Homo sapiens: one gene and its partners. The protein of the gene in region 4 purifies or fractionates together with the protein of the main gene of each other region. This does not show direct contact. Each region holds a gene or a part of one and is shown on either strand. Other genes may lie near its edges.

The links. The genes of interacting proteins can lie anywhere in the genome.
Region 1: the proteins of NOL10 (region 4) and NOL6 fractionate together in Homo sapiens (co-fractionation; one large-scale study listed by BioGRID). This does not show direct contact.
Region 2: the proteins of NOL10 (region 4) and ZNF644 purify together in Homo sapiens (affinity purification with mass spectrometry; one large-scale study listed by BioGRID and IntAct). This does not show direct contact.
Region 3: the proteins of NOL10 (region 4) and SRI purify together in Homo sapiens (affinity purification with mass spectrometry; one large-scale study listed by BioGRID and IntAct). This does not show direct contact.

What each region holds. Positions count from the first base shown.
Region 1 is NC_000009.12:33,463,925-33,467,424, forward strand, and holds part of NOL6 (nucleolar protein 6), read right to left. Parts: coding exon 3,470-3,500; intron 3,339-3,469; coding exon 3,190-3,338; intron 3,064-3,189; coding exon 2,988-3,063; intron 2,786-2,987; coding exon 2,645-2,785; intron 2,502-2,644; coding exon 2,384-2,501; intron 2,302-2,383; coding exon 2,147-2,301; intron 1,974-2,146; coding exon 1,810-1,973; intron 1,436-1,809; coding exon 1,283-1,435; intron 1,053-1,282; coding exon 955-1,052; intron 238-954; coding exon 113-237; intron 1-112. UniProt on the Homo sapiens protein: Part of the small subunit (SSU) processome, first precursor of the small eukaryotic ribosomal subunit.
Region 2 is NC_000001.11:90,980,536-90,984,035, reverse strand, and holds part of ZNF644 (zinc finger protein 644), read left to right. Parts: intron 1-1,665; 5' UTR 1,666-1,682; coding exon 1,683-1,726; intron 1,727-3,500.
Region 3 is NC_000007.14:88,213,539-88,217,038, reverse strand, and holds part of SRI (sorcin), read left to right. Parts: intron 1-281; exon of another isoform or gene 282-379; intron 380-454; exon of another isoform or gene 455-596; intron 597-2,102; exon of another isoform or gene 2,103-2,463; intron 2,464-3,500. UniProt on the Homo sapiens protein: Calcium-binding protein that modulates excitation-contraction coupling in the heart. Contributes to calcium homeostasis in the heart sarcoplasmic reticulum. Modulates the activity of RYR2 calcium channels.
Region 4 is NC_000002.12:10,592,476-10,595,975, forward strand, and holds part of NOL10 (nucleolar protein 10), read right to left. Parts: intron 1-3,500.

The sequences.
Region 1 (3,500 bases), on a different chromosome or scaffold from region 4:
GGGGTACAGACACATCAGACTGGAACTGAAGTGGGTCTCTCCCAGGTCAGGCTGGGCCTGCTTTTTCCTTGGGAAGAAAACCACACATTAGGGGGCAGGTATGGGGTTGAACCTGGGCTGAGGGTCCATCCTGTGTCCACACAGAGTTTTTGCGGTCTTGGGGGGTAACAATGACCATGACGGGGAGCTGTGCCCGAGCTGCCAGGAAGCCACTGCGGATCTCCACCTGCTCCTCCACTAGAGACAAGAATGGGTCCTGGGTCAGCCTGCTCCTCCCTGTAAGACACCCTCTACTCCCCCAGGTCCTCCTACGGTGCCCCCAACGGCTGCTCATCACAGGTATTTTTCAACACTCCCCCCCACCAAGTGGCAAAGGTGACGAAAGGGACATCGCATTTGCCTCAACTGGGTGGGGCATTAATCGCCCAACCTCAGCCCAGAGGCAAAATTTTCCACTGCTTGGCACCCCCAGTCTGGTTTCCGGGCCTGCACAAGCTGAGTCTTGCCCCTGGCCCCCTCCCACCATGGGCTTCCACACACCTGGGGAATTAGGAACCTGACACCCTGCTCTCTGCAGAGACCGAGTGCCTCACGTTACAACCAGAAATCACCACTCCCACCCCCACCAAGAGGTCTGAGTATCTGTGCTACACTTCCTAGCTCCGTGCCCTAATACTTCTTACGTGGTATTCAGGATCCCCCTTCTATTCTCCTCTTCCTTCCACAGCCCCCCGCCAGGTAGCTTGCTTACCACCCTATCATTCTGTCTCTGACAATTAAGAGCAAACCATGTCATAATGGTCAGGCTGTTCACCTGGACCTCTTCTTCATGTCAGGCTTAGACATCTGGGGCTGGGGAGGCACAGAGAAAACCTAACACTGCCAGGGAAACCCTTGCCTGCAATCCATAAAGAGCTGTTCTTCCAGCAGTCTGACCCCTGTTCTACCACTTACCAGTGAGCTCATTATTGAGGTTGACAAAGAGGGGGTTGTTCTTCCAATCAAACGTTGATACCAAGAAAAGGAATCGAAGGAAGCCAACCTGGGGGGAACTAAAGGGCTGGAGTAAGCAAAGAATCCAGGGCCCAGCCACATATCCCCAGGCTTCTCTCAGGCTATGGAGCTCAGACCCCCTGGTGTGGATTGGCAGGGCAGGGCATCTTAGAACCCCTTCTGCCACTTGCTCAACCACCCATTCCCATGTAGACTTAGGGTGCAGCACGAAGGATGATGGCTGGCCGCAAGGAAACTTCTCAGCTGGGGAAAAAGTGGAGGGAATCACCTCGGAGGGGTGAAGGGCTCAGGGTGCAGGAAAAGGGCAGCGGCCACCAGATCCAGGCTCTCATCAGCGAAACCCTCACCAAGAAGCTGGGCACGCACCCACCGCTTGGCCAGCCGTGCCACACCAGAGAAGGCTGGGTGCTGCTGCTGCAGTCTGCAGAGAGAAGGGGAGTGTCAGCGAGACTCAGGGCCCCACTGCCACTGTTCATCCAGCCCCTACCCAAGGCCAGCCTCAGTGATAATAGGTTACATATGTAATCTCATATTCTCTTAAGAAATGCACCAAGAAGTTGACCCTAGTGTTATTTCCATTTTACAGATGACAAATATAGGGACCAAGGAGGAAAATCTGACCATAGGGTCACAGTCAGTAAGTGGCAGAGCCAGGATTCCAGAACCTGCCTGACTCCAGAACTCATACCCCTAACTATGATACCATCTGGCCCCTGGAGAGACAGGTGGCTAGGTGAGGAGAATGGGGGCAGGAGGGGGCCTACAGACAGGAAGAAGCTGTGTCAGTGGCCTTACCCGTGCAGGGCACTGGTGAGCAGTGGCAACTGCCTTGTGTCTCTCTCAAGGCGGAGGGAGGCAGCTGTGTCCCTCAGCGAGATCATCCCCTCTGGGCTCTGCACCTCCTTCAGGATCTGGGGCTCCCGCTGATAGGCCACGCGAATCCGAAACACAAATCCATCCTGTTGGAAGAAGGTATGGAAAGAGAAGGATGTGTCAGCCCAGAACCCCGGGAGTACTCTGTGGCCTACAGCCCTATTACCCAGCGTGGTACCCACAGGGGTGTCTTCTTCCACGCCCTGACATCCCTGGTGCCCCCCTTCCCTGGGGACATATCTGCCTGCACCAGCCTAACCTTAAGGACATCCGTGTGCGTGGCAGTGGCACGGCACTGCAGACCATGCTGTTGTGTCAACAGCTCTGCCAGGCGCAGCTGGAAGGCAGCTCGGACCCGCTGCACGGCCTCAGCGTCCTGTGGCCACTGGCCACTGCCCTCCAGGTGACAAACCACTGAGGAAGAAGAGTCAGAGGTCTCATACTGTGGCCTGGAGCTGGAACTATCCCTCCCACTCCCTCCCAAGGGCCCTCTTACCGGTCATGGGCTCCACGTAGGCCGGACAGGGCTTATCGAGCCGGGGCAGCAGTGAGGACCGCTCCCGCAGAGTCTCATAGAAGGAGAAGGCTGGACGGACTGGAGTTGGTGGGAACACCTGTGGAAGAAGAGGGGCTGAGGAATGGGCCTAGGACTGGGAGGGAGTGCCCAGAGTCAGGAGTTGGAAGTGGGGAATACTGGGTGACTGGAGCAGAGGTGGGGCCACTAAGCAGAAAGGTCACCTGCACCGTTGCACCTCACCTCTGTGTAGCGCAGCACTGGGTGAGCTCCCTGAACAGCAGACACGGTCAGTGGGAGACCCTCTAGCCCCCACAGTAGGCGACTGAGGTCGTCGTAGCAACGTACCGCCGCTACCAGGGCCTCCTCACCTGTGCTGGAGGTCTGAGAGGGAGAAGACGGTCAGGAGGCTGGACCCTACAGAAGGCCAGCTTCACCTGGATTCTGCCCCAGCTCAGGCTGCAGCAGAGCCAGCACCGCCGCCTGCTGGACATGCCAGGAAGTGCAAGCTGGCCAAGGCTGAGAGGACTCTCTCCCCGCAGATTGATTACTCTACAATCACTAGCCTTGACCCCAAGACCCTTACCTCTTTCAGGCCTTGGATAAGTGCATCCAGGGGGCCCCCCACATAGTGGACACAGGTTTCTGGGATGTCAGCATGGCTGAAAAAGAGGCAGAGACACAGTGAGAAAATTTGGGGCTATGTTCTCGCTCAACTGCCTGGGCCAGACCCCTGAAAAGGCTCCCCAGCCCACACTGCCTTCTGGAATCCAGATGCCAACACTCACAGTGCCAAGAGGTGGGTGACCACCTGGTGGGGAATAAGGCGCTTCTGGGACATAGAGGCTGCCTCCCAGACCACAGCTTCCCGAATGGCTCCGTCCTGGAAACGCCGAAGCTCCGAGCGGGATCCCCAGAACTGGCGGAATTTAGCAGCCTGAGGAGGCAAGGGTGGTAGTAGAGCTGGGGAAGGAAGGGCTCTGTGGACCCTCCCCAACAAGCTTCAGTCCAGGTGCCATGAGGACGAGCCACCCCATTCCTTCCAGTGTACATGCTGGGGTCCCCCACCTCAGGCTGGTCTGCCTCTGGACCCAGCTCA
Region 2 (3,500 bases), on a different chromosome or scaffold from region 4:
GATACTGGTGGGTGCTGGCATTCCTGGCTATGGCCCATGTCCTTCCAGTCTACGAAAGCAGCATTTTCAGTTCTCTCTGCCATGTCTTCTTCTTCTTCCTCTTTTTTGGAGACAGAGTCTTGCTCTGTTGCCTAGGCTGGATGCAGCGACGTGATCTTGGCTCATTGCAACCTCCGCTTCCTGAGTTCAAGCAAGATTATCCTGCCTCAGCCTCCTGAGTAGTTGGGACTACGGGCGCGTGCCACCACGCCCAGCTAACTTTTGTATTTTTAGTAGAGACGGGGTTTCACCATGTTGGCCAGGCTGGTTTCGAACTCCTGACCTCAGGTGATCTGCCCACCTTGGCCTCCCAAAGTGCTGGGATTACAGGTGTGAGCCACTGTGCCCGGCCTCTCCGCTTGTCTTCTCATTGCCTTCAGTGTGTGTCTCGTTCTTATAAGGATACATGTGATTGCACTGTGGTCCACCCAGATAATTCGGAATAATCCTCCCTCTCAAGATCCTTAATTTAATCATATCTACAAAGACTTCTTCTTTTTTTTTTTTTTTTTTTTGCCATATGAGGTAACATTGTCAGATTTCAGGGATCAGGGTGTGGAAGTCTTTTGTGGGGCAATAGTTCAGCTTATCCCACTCAGTCGTTTATAATAGACTTTTAATGTTCTTACTTTTATTTTATAGTTTAGTTTTTAACAGGCCCCCATGTCCACTTCTGGGTTGGTGGGAGATGATGGCATTGGGTGGCAGAGAAAATATCTCATCTTTTCTAGATACGATGCAGAAAATTCTAGGTCTGTGGTTCTAGGAAGGACAAATCAGAGATGATAGTTTGGAAATAAAACAGTTAAAGTAACCTAGCTTGAGAACAGAGGTAGGTGTGGTGGTGCTATTTTTTAAAGAATAGAGAATTTAGAAGAGTCACAAGCTAGTTTCAGGTATGGGGAGGAGGAGATATGTAGAGTGTGGGACATACTGAGTTTTCAGAAGTTCTGAAATATGGTAAAATTAGTAATGGTGGATATATTTTTGGCAAATGCATGTTCAGTGGATTGTTGGTGTAGAAGTCACTTTATACTAGATTAAAGATTAAATTGAAGATGGGGAGTATTGATACATTCTATTCTCTAGAATAATGATGCTTGGCATTTAGTAAGTAATCAGTGTTGGCTATTATGATAATTACTGTGGTTGCTCTAACAAATTACTTTGTTATATACTTTTATGTGTATATACTTTTATGTGTTCCAATACTATAACATTTTTGTCTTCAGCTGTTTGGTGTGTGTCTTGATATGTACATAATATTAAATAAATACTGATCTAGAAAGATGTGTGTTTTAGTAATTATTTTAATTATTGCCATTGCCATACTATTAAAATTAATGAAAACAATTTAGAATTTTTTTTAAAAAAAAGAATTAGTTTCAATTTCTCATTTGAATAGATTATTATTTCTCAAAAAAAGCAGTGAGGTTGGGGGGCACTTAGCAATAGTTTCCTAAAGATTAAAATGATGGTATTCTGGTTGAATGGTTTTTTTATGTTATATCAAGAAATATAATTTGGTTTGTGTTTTTTCATTTAAAATAATAGTGTATTGTAGCTATGGTTATTCATGCCTGAAACAAAAAATTAAACCTTGGTCATTGTGTGTATTTCTTTCAGGTTTGATTTAATTTTGGATGAGATCGTTCTTGCAGCAAGATGTTAATAAGACAAAATCTAGGTAAGTAGAAGACTGCTTTGTTAAATGTACATATCAAGGTAGGAATAATACAAAAAAATTATGTCTTAAAAATGTGGTGTTGAGTTCAGAACCAAAGAGTTTTTAAATAAAATTTTGAAATGCAAATAATTGACTTTTTGACACACTTGGTCCAGTTGATTTGATGGGAGTAAAATTATAACTATCACATTGTGGAACTAAATTTTTAGTTTCCTTCTTTTGTGTTGAGGTTAACTAAAGCATTCAAGTTTCCAGTGAATATTCTAAAATGTTAGAAAATCAAGTTAATGTTTGGTTCAGCCACTCTTATTGAACTCTGACCACTTCAGTAAGACATTTATTGTGTCACTTCATTGTTCTCTCCTTTGTTGATAAAGTATATGAATAGTCATTGCTTTTGTGAATTTTGCTTCATTTTTAATGTTAAGGAAGCACTTTCCCAAATGGGATAAATTTGCCAAATTGTGATTTCTTTCTGTTAATATAGTATTCAAAATTGTAAATTATTGTTTTAATGTTTTCCTAGTGGGTGTCTCTACTGAATGACCTCTCTAATATAGCATTCTGATTAGCTTTCTAAGGCTGTTCACTTTTAAAAAATTGAATTGGCATCATGTACTTTGGTATGTGAAAGAATGCTTTTTAATAATATAAGCCGTTGACATGTTTTAAAAAGATACATTTACTATTTATTGGTAAGTGAATATGGCTTCAAAATGGAAACAAGGGAAAAAGAACATTGAAAAAATTGGAGTTAACTTGGTTTTCCCTCTAACCAGATGTTTCAGCTGTCAAAAATTTGCTGATCTCAATGTTTGTTAAAGAAAAAAAAAGTCTAGGATGAAAAGTGCTGTAGTTCAGTAATATGCACTGAAGGAAATCTCAGTCAGTGGTTTGGGCATGTTTTGAAGCAAAATTTTGCTTTTATTGCTATTATATAATAATAACAGTAGTGGTAGTTTGAAGAGTACTTATTGTGCTCTAAATTCTGTTAAGTGCTTGTCATACCTTATTGATCGTTATAGTACCTCCTCTTGTTGTGTAGAAAAATTTTATTTTTTGCTTTATAGTGGGCTGTTTTTCTTTAGGAATAATAATTTACTTCTGTAGCATTTATTAGAAATAACACTTGCCTATGTATCTTCTTAAAGTGGAGAAGAAGCCATTCTTTTGTACTTGAAGGTCTTATTAGGGTTTGTTTTCTAGTTGAATATACAGTGTCTGTTAAAACTTTTGTTCTGATTTTCTATGTTTGATATTGCTTGTGGGATGACACTGGTTTAACTTATTCTGACCTTATTTTTCACCATGCTTATATATGTAGTTTTTTCTTTTTTATTATGGTATAGTTTACATATATATGGTAACATAAAATTTGAGGTATAGAGCTGAATGACTTTTCACATACACATTCATATGTGTAACCACCATCTAGATCAAGATATAGAACATTTCATTACTTTGGAAAGTTCCTTGTGCTTTCCCCGCTTCCAGTCTAATAGCCTTTTCCCCTGAAGTAATCATCTTTCTGAATTCTGTCAGCATAATTTAGTTTTGCCTGTTCTTGGATTTTATATATAGTATGTACTCTTGTATGTGGCTTTTTCATTCAACATAATGTTCTTGAGCTTCATCTATGTTGTGACTATGTCAGCAGTTCATTATTTTTTATTGCTGTTTTATTTTTAGTAATATTCCATTGTATGAACACACTACAAAGTATTTATGTTTTCTCAGTGATTTGGTTTATTGGATTCTCCATATCTCTGTTCCT
Region 3 (3,500 bases), on a different chromosome or scaffold from region 4:
AAACTGAGCTTGTCGGATCTAGCAAAGTTTAGAATTCCGAAAGCTAAAATACAGTACTATTTCAAAATGTTGATTTGAAAACAGTTTTTAAATCACTCCAGGCTGGGCACAGTGGCTCACACCTGTAATCCCAGTACTTCAGAGGCCCAGGCAGGAGGATCGCTTGAAGCCAAGAGTTTTTGGCTGCAGTAATCTATGATTGTACCACTGCACTCCAGCCTGAGCAACAGAGCAAGACCTTGTCTTTAAAATAATAATAATAATAAATTATTCCATCCTACCTGCCAATCTAGTGGATTTCTCAGATTTGGGTTTTGTGTACCTAGAACCAGTGAGACAGTTTGGGTGGCCTCCTTCACAGAGGACAAGGTAGGGTGCTGAAATGGAATCTGCCAGGTCAGGGGTCATTAACTGACATTAGGAACTGATATTTACTGTTATTTGCCAAGAGCCTACTCTGCCCTGACCTGGTGGCACTTAGGGCTTTGAGTTGCTGCCCTGCACCCCTGGTCCCTGAGTGGCCTATCCTGCACTCCTGGTCTCTGAGCTTTGGGCATGCTCCTGCTAACATAAGTGGTTGCCATGACATCCCTCAGGTCTTTCCTCTTCCACTTCATAGAATGTATTCAGGCTAAGTGGGAAGTGGCCTTTCTACTTACTGGACCTGCTGCTCCATAATTCAGCCCTTACCCTACCCCTGCCTTTTGAACACTCTGCCATGAGCTGAGAGTAATGAAATACTGCAAAGATGCTCCATCCCTGGCAGGGCACAGTGGCTCACACCTGTAATCCCAGCACTTTAGGAGACTGAGGTGGGAGGATTGCTTGAGCCCGGGAGTTCAAGACTAGCCTGGGCAACATAGTGAAACCTTGTCTCTGCAAAAAATTTAAAAATTAGCCAGGCATGGTGGCATGCACCTGTGGTCCCAGCTACTCAGGAGGCTGAGGTGGGAGGATTATACAAGCCCAGGAGGCGGAGGTTGCAGTGAGCCAAGATTGTGCCACTGCACTCCAGCCTGGGTGACAGCCTGTCTCAGAAAATCCAAAAAATTGCTGCATCCCAACTGGGGGCTTCTCATCATCCAACACATATGAAGTGGTTCCTCTTGAAATTAGATCTTGAACATGATAGATTTCCAGGGTAGAGAATAATGTCTTAGTTCAAATACATTACCAACTTCTTTGCCAGTTGTTAATTGAGACAAAACATCAAATTGAAGACCCAATTTCATGGTTAGCTGTGGATTAAAATGTTCAAACTAGAATTCACAGCTGTGAATTTATAGTGGCCTTTTTTTAAAAACTATTTGACATGGCATGTATTAGATGGCTGTCTTTGAACTCTTTGCATTTGTTTTCATTATCCTTTGTTTTATGTGACTTTAGTATCCTATTACTCTTTCCTAATTAGAGGAATTAATACAAACGAAGAACCTTTCAAGTTCCTGTTATTTAATCTAGTCCTAAACAAAATAAGCACTTTTTGGATTAGGGGATGTTATTCTTTACTGTGTAGGCAGTACATTTAAATTGTTAATTGTTACGCAATTGAGCTGGTAAACAAGGTAGGCCTGCCTATTAGCAGGGTTTATCAAAGTGCAGTGAGATCACAGCATGGCCTGTTATTCTACATCCTTTCAGTAGATGAGGTGTGGCAGATTTTAGAATCTGACTAACAAAATGGGTTGTATATTGTTAGAGAGCAGTCCTTTTAAAATTTCATTGAGAAAGCCACATTTAGTGATGGCCTTAGATCAATGCATTAAAGAGAAAGCATTTCCTGAATCATGGGGCCTATGTGATTGAATCCATTTGCCTACTCTCTGGTGGCCGTACTGAACCACAGAACCATCCTGCCTATGAGGTGTCAGTGTTTTGTAATGCAGATATTATATGGCCATTAGTCTTTTAAACCCAACTTCCAAACCAAAAAGCACAGGTCCGAATTGGATGAGCAGGTGGGATACTCCAGCTCAGAGCCTATGGGCCCTTCTTAACCAGTTTAAAAGGAAGCAGTCATACCTAGAGGTGGAGTTGGTGAGAGAAGTTGTGTTCCAGTCAGTAAGATTGTAATTCAGCTTCTCTTTTTTCCCTGAATTTAGTTGTTCGTCTGTGATAAGGTTGAGAGAAACAGCTGGAGGTAGGGCTTTCCTTCTAGGTCCATTATATTGTATGTTTCTGTGAGAAGAAAAGATGTTTGAGGCATTCTAGTAGAATGAACAGAAGAGAAGAAAAAGAGTAAAGGTAAATTACAGCAGAGATTCTTTGGAAATTATTAAAATTAACATTATTTAATTTAAATAATTTCAAAATGTTGAATTAATAATTTTAATTATAATTTATAGTTATAATTATATGTAGTTACATTTACGTAACTAATATATAATACTTATAATTTTAATTAATTTTAAATAATTATTTAAAATAGAATTAACACTAATAAAAGCTATATTATTAACAAAATTGAGAAAGAGTTTTCCTTACCAAAACTTATTGGACATCAGCGTTCTAGTTCATTGGAACTGTCTAGAATGGTGTATTTTTTGTTCATTCACTTTTGTTCACTGCCATCTCACTGCCCTTTCAGATCCTTCTCACAAAAGATGACCAGATTCCTGATCTTCCTGATCTGTCCCTCTCCTCCTCAGTCTTTACTAACAGCTTAGAAGGAATTCAAGGTCCTCTGTAATGCACCCTCCCCTGACCAAACATATTTTCTCCCACTCCTTTTGTACTCTTTGAAAGTCATATTGAGCTATTCACTTACGCTTTGCCTGTCCTAGGCCTTCTACTTCTCTCTTTGCTTATGCTGGTCCTTAGCTGTCACCAAATGCCCCCATCATTCTTGTCATTCAAGGCTTGGCTTAAATTCTTTGTCTTCTATAAAGTCTTTCTTGATTCTCTTACTGGGAAGGAGCTTCTCACTTCTCAATCCCTTCTGGTACTTTCTGGCCCCTCCATTATAATTCAGCACTCTACCATGATTAGGGTTATATGTGTATGTGACTTATCTTTTCCTTAGACTGTCAGCTAGGACGGTATGCAGTTTCACAACTGTATCTGCAAAGTTCCTGTTACCCTGAGCCCTGAACATAATAAGTACTTAACAGTGGCTGTTGAGTTAATGAATATGGAAAATTTTCTGTGTCAGAAAAATTATAGCCCTGTAGCCTTATTGGCTTTTTGATTTAAGATTATACATTAATTTTTGAGCATTAGTAAAGATTAGAAAATTTTATTCAAAAAACATTCCTTCTTAGACGATCTAAGAGGGTTGTACATATAAAGTGCAGGGCTCTACAGCTTCCTGCGTGGGGGTGAGAATTTGGTGCCATCCATCCATACCAGTGCATTTTTAGTGAATACTTCCTATGAGCTAGGTGCTGGCTCTGTAGCCACAATCAATGCCTGGGTGTTGGGAAAAGCACTGGGATAAGAGAGAGGCTGTGGAATCACATAGAATGGGCACATAACCCAGACAGGAGTCAGGAAAGTTTTCC
Region 4 (3,500 bases):
CGCCATGTCTCAGGAGAAGGGAGGGGGCTATGATGTAAATTTTGGAGTTATCTGTAGATATCGGATAGATGATAGTGTGAAAGATAATTTCAAATGAATAACTATGTGCCTATTACACATTTTCAGGTTAAAAAAACCCAAGGGCAAATATTTACTTTTCATCTTACTATATTTATTAAAGTAATAATCATATTTAATAAATAGAGAAAATGTTACAAAGACTACATATGTTGCTGGTATTAAGATTTTTTTCTTAATTTAAAACAAATCAATTGCATTGCCTAAAGACAAGTATGCTTTGGATGAACAACTATAAAATAAAACCTCTTCTGACCCAGCTTGTAAAAATATTTCCCTCAGGGTTTTTTCCTAGTCTGTTTGTTTTCACAGCTGTCTTAAGGAAAAAAGTAGGATAAGGTATAGCTATTAATGTTCTATAGGAGCTTACAAGTGTCTGGCTAGTGATCCGTCCTATAAATACCCGTCTACACATGCTCAACTTTACCATTAAAATATAGAAAACATTAAAGTACTATTCATACCACAGTCCTACCTGGAAGAATGGTATCTGTCTACCTGAGTGGGACGCCTATTATTATTTTGTTCCAACATAGTAACATATATGAAGAATGATTGCCATTTGAAACAAATTAGTTTTTTTTTTTTTCTTTTTTTTCTTTTGAGATGGGGTCTTGCTCTGTCACGCAGGCTGGAGTGCAGTGGTGTGATCTCGGCTCACTGCAACCTCTGCCTCCCGGGTTCAAGCGATTCTCCTGCCTCAGCCTCCTGGAGTAGCTGGGATTACAGGCACGCGCCACCACGGCCGGCTAATTTTTGTGTTTTTAGTAGAGACGGGGTTTCACCAGTTGGTCAGGCTGGTCTCAAACTTCTGACCTGGTGATTCGCCTGCCTCGGCCTTCCAAAGTGCTGGGATTACAGGCGTGAGCCACTGCACCCCGGCCAATCAAATTAGTTCTTTCAATGCTATGATACCTATGAAGTTAGGCTGGTACAGACTTCTGAGTAAAGATGGTGGCTTGAACACTAGTATCTTCTAATCTCTCCTAAAACTTCACTAGAACAACAGAAAAGGAGCTTTATAAAAAGGGCATAAACCCTTAAGAAAAAAAGGAAAGGAAATAGGGGTAATAAAAATTTGGAAGCCAGAAAGAAAGCCTATTTAAAAATCACACCCCAGCTCTGGAAAGCCTGGCCCCAGCCCTTTCCCACGGAGAAGTTGCTTGGCTGAGGCTGGCACTGCAAGAGCAAGAGAGGTGTGCTGGCCACAAGGAGGGGAGGGCAAGGCTGGCACATGGGGGTGAGGTGCCCTCTGGACCCCTCCAACCTCTTGTGACCTACAGTGGTCAGTTCTAGGAATGCTGGTAGCCAGGCCTTTACCCCCCCAAGCAGGAGGACCTGACCAGCCAAGAGAAAGACCTAAGAGACAATGACATGTGCAGTGTCCTTCCCCAAACAGTGTGGCCAAGTCACTGCACACTGACTGAGGGACCCTGTCCCCACCTAGAGTTTTCATTCAGTTTTTTAACTCTCTTATTCCTCACTGCCAAAAAATAACTATGGATCATGGCAGGAAAAACTAATTGAAATTTTCTTTCAAGAAAATTCCCCAGCACTGAAGACCGAACTTCTAGACTGAGATGGGCTTGCAGCACAGTACAGTCGCTTCGTGTCAGGTTTCCCAGGACGCTTCCTCTTCCTGGGCTTACACTGTTATTTTAGAGAAACAACTCCCCTAGCAACTTCCCGAGGAAAAGCAGCATTTAAGGGGAATTGGTTGTTGTTGAGAACTTGCATGTCTGAAAATATCTACCATACCCTCACATTGACTGACTGCTTGCCTAGGTTGGAAACTATATTCCTTCAGGAAACTGAAGGTTCTTGTAATTCTCTGTCCAACATGGGCTGAGGTGAAGTGAATCCCCAGGATAATGGTAAAGGGAGGTCCCGGGATTAGAAGGTGACCAGGCTAGAATGGAATGGGGCAGAAAATTCTAGAAGCAACTTCTTCAGGAAGGTAAATAAGCATAAGTCTAACCTATCTAAACACCTCAAAATAAGACTTAGAGAACTGACATAGAATTGGGTGTTGATTAGTGATAACTACATAGAAAACGAGCAAGAGAGACAATTATTAACTTCAAAGTACACAAAGATTGAACAAGAAATGCAGTCACAGATTACTACTGACTCGGCTGGAAATAGCACTTACGTAGGCCAGGCATGGTGGCTCGTGCCTGTAATCCCAACACTTTGGGAGGCTGAGGTGGGAGGATCTCTTGAGCTCAGGAGTTGGAGACCAGCCCGGACAACACAGTGAGACCTCAGCTCTACTAAAATATATACATACATATATATTAGCTGGGTGTGGTGTGCACCTGTAATCCCAGCTACTTGAGAGGCTGAGGTGAGAGGATCACTTAAGCCCGAGAGACTGAGGCTGCAGTAAGCTATGATTCTGCCACTGTACTCCAGCCTGGGTAACAGGCTCTATCTCAAAAAACAAAAGTACAACAATGTAATGCTGAATACCAACTTAATCAAAATCACAATATAGCTTCCTTGGAAAGGAAAGTTATCAAAAGATAATGCCTAACACTAAAAAGTTAAGAGGTAGGACTACAGGCAAGAGGGAGGGAGGGGGAGGGGGCAGAGAGAGAGAGAGAGAGAGAGAGAGAGAGAGAGATTTATACCAAAATAATCAGCAAAAAAGGCAAAAGTGGTTGTCTGAGAAGAGGTGAAAATGGAGGAAGGCAGAGGGAGGAAAAGGGGCAGACAATGGGATGGCCTACATTCCTAACAAACCTTGGAGAAATGTTTAGGTTTTTTTTGTTTTTGTTTTTGACAGAGTCTCACTCTGTTACTGGGCTGGAGTGCAGTGGCACAACCATGGCTAACTGCGGCCTTGCAGGGAGATCCTCCCACCTCAGCCTCCTGAGTAGCTGGGACCACAGGCATGCACCACTACACCCAGCTAATGTTTTGTAGAGATGCGGTTTCACCATGTTGCCCAGGCTGGTCTTGAACTCCTGGGCTCAAGTGATCCTCCCTGCCTTGGCCTCCCAAAATGATGGGATTACAGAAATGTTTTTTTGTTTTGTTTTGTTTTTGTTTGTTTGTTTGTTTTTTGAGATGGAGTCTTGCTCTGTTGCCCAGGCTAGAGTGCAATGGCGTGATCTTGGCTCACTGCAACCTCTGCCTCCCAGGTTCAAGCAATTCTCCTGCCTCAGCCTCCCAAGTAGCTGGGATTACAGGTACGCACCACCACACCCAACTAGTTTTTCTATTTTTAGTAGAAATGGGGTTTCACTGTGTTGGCCAGAGTGGTCTCAAACTCCTGGCCTCAAGTGATCTGCCTGCCTTGGCCTCCCGAAGTGCTGGGATTACAGGTGTGAGCCCATAATGTTTGTGTTAGGCACTGTGCCCAGACTGAAATGTTTAGTTTTTAAAACTATGCATGTATAACTGTAATTTAAAAAAAA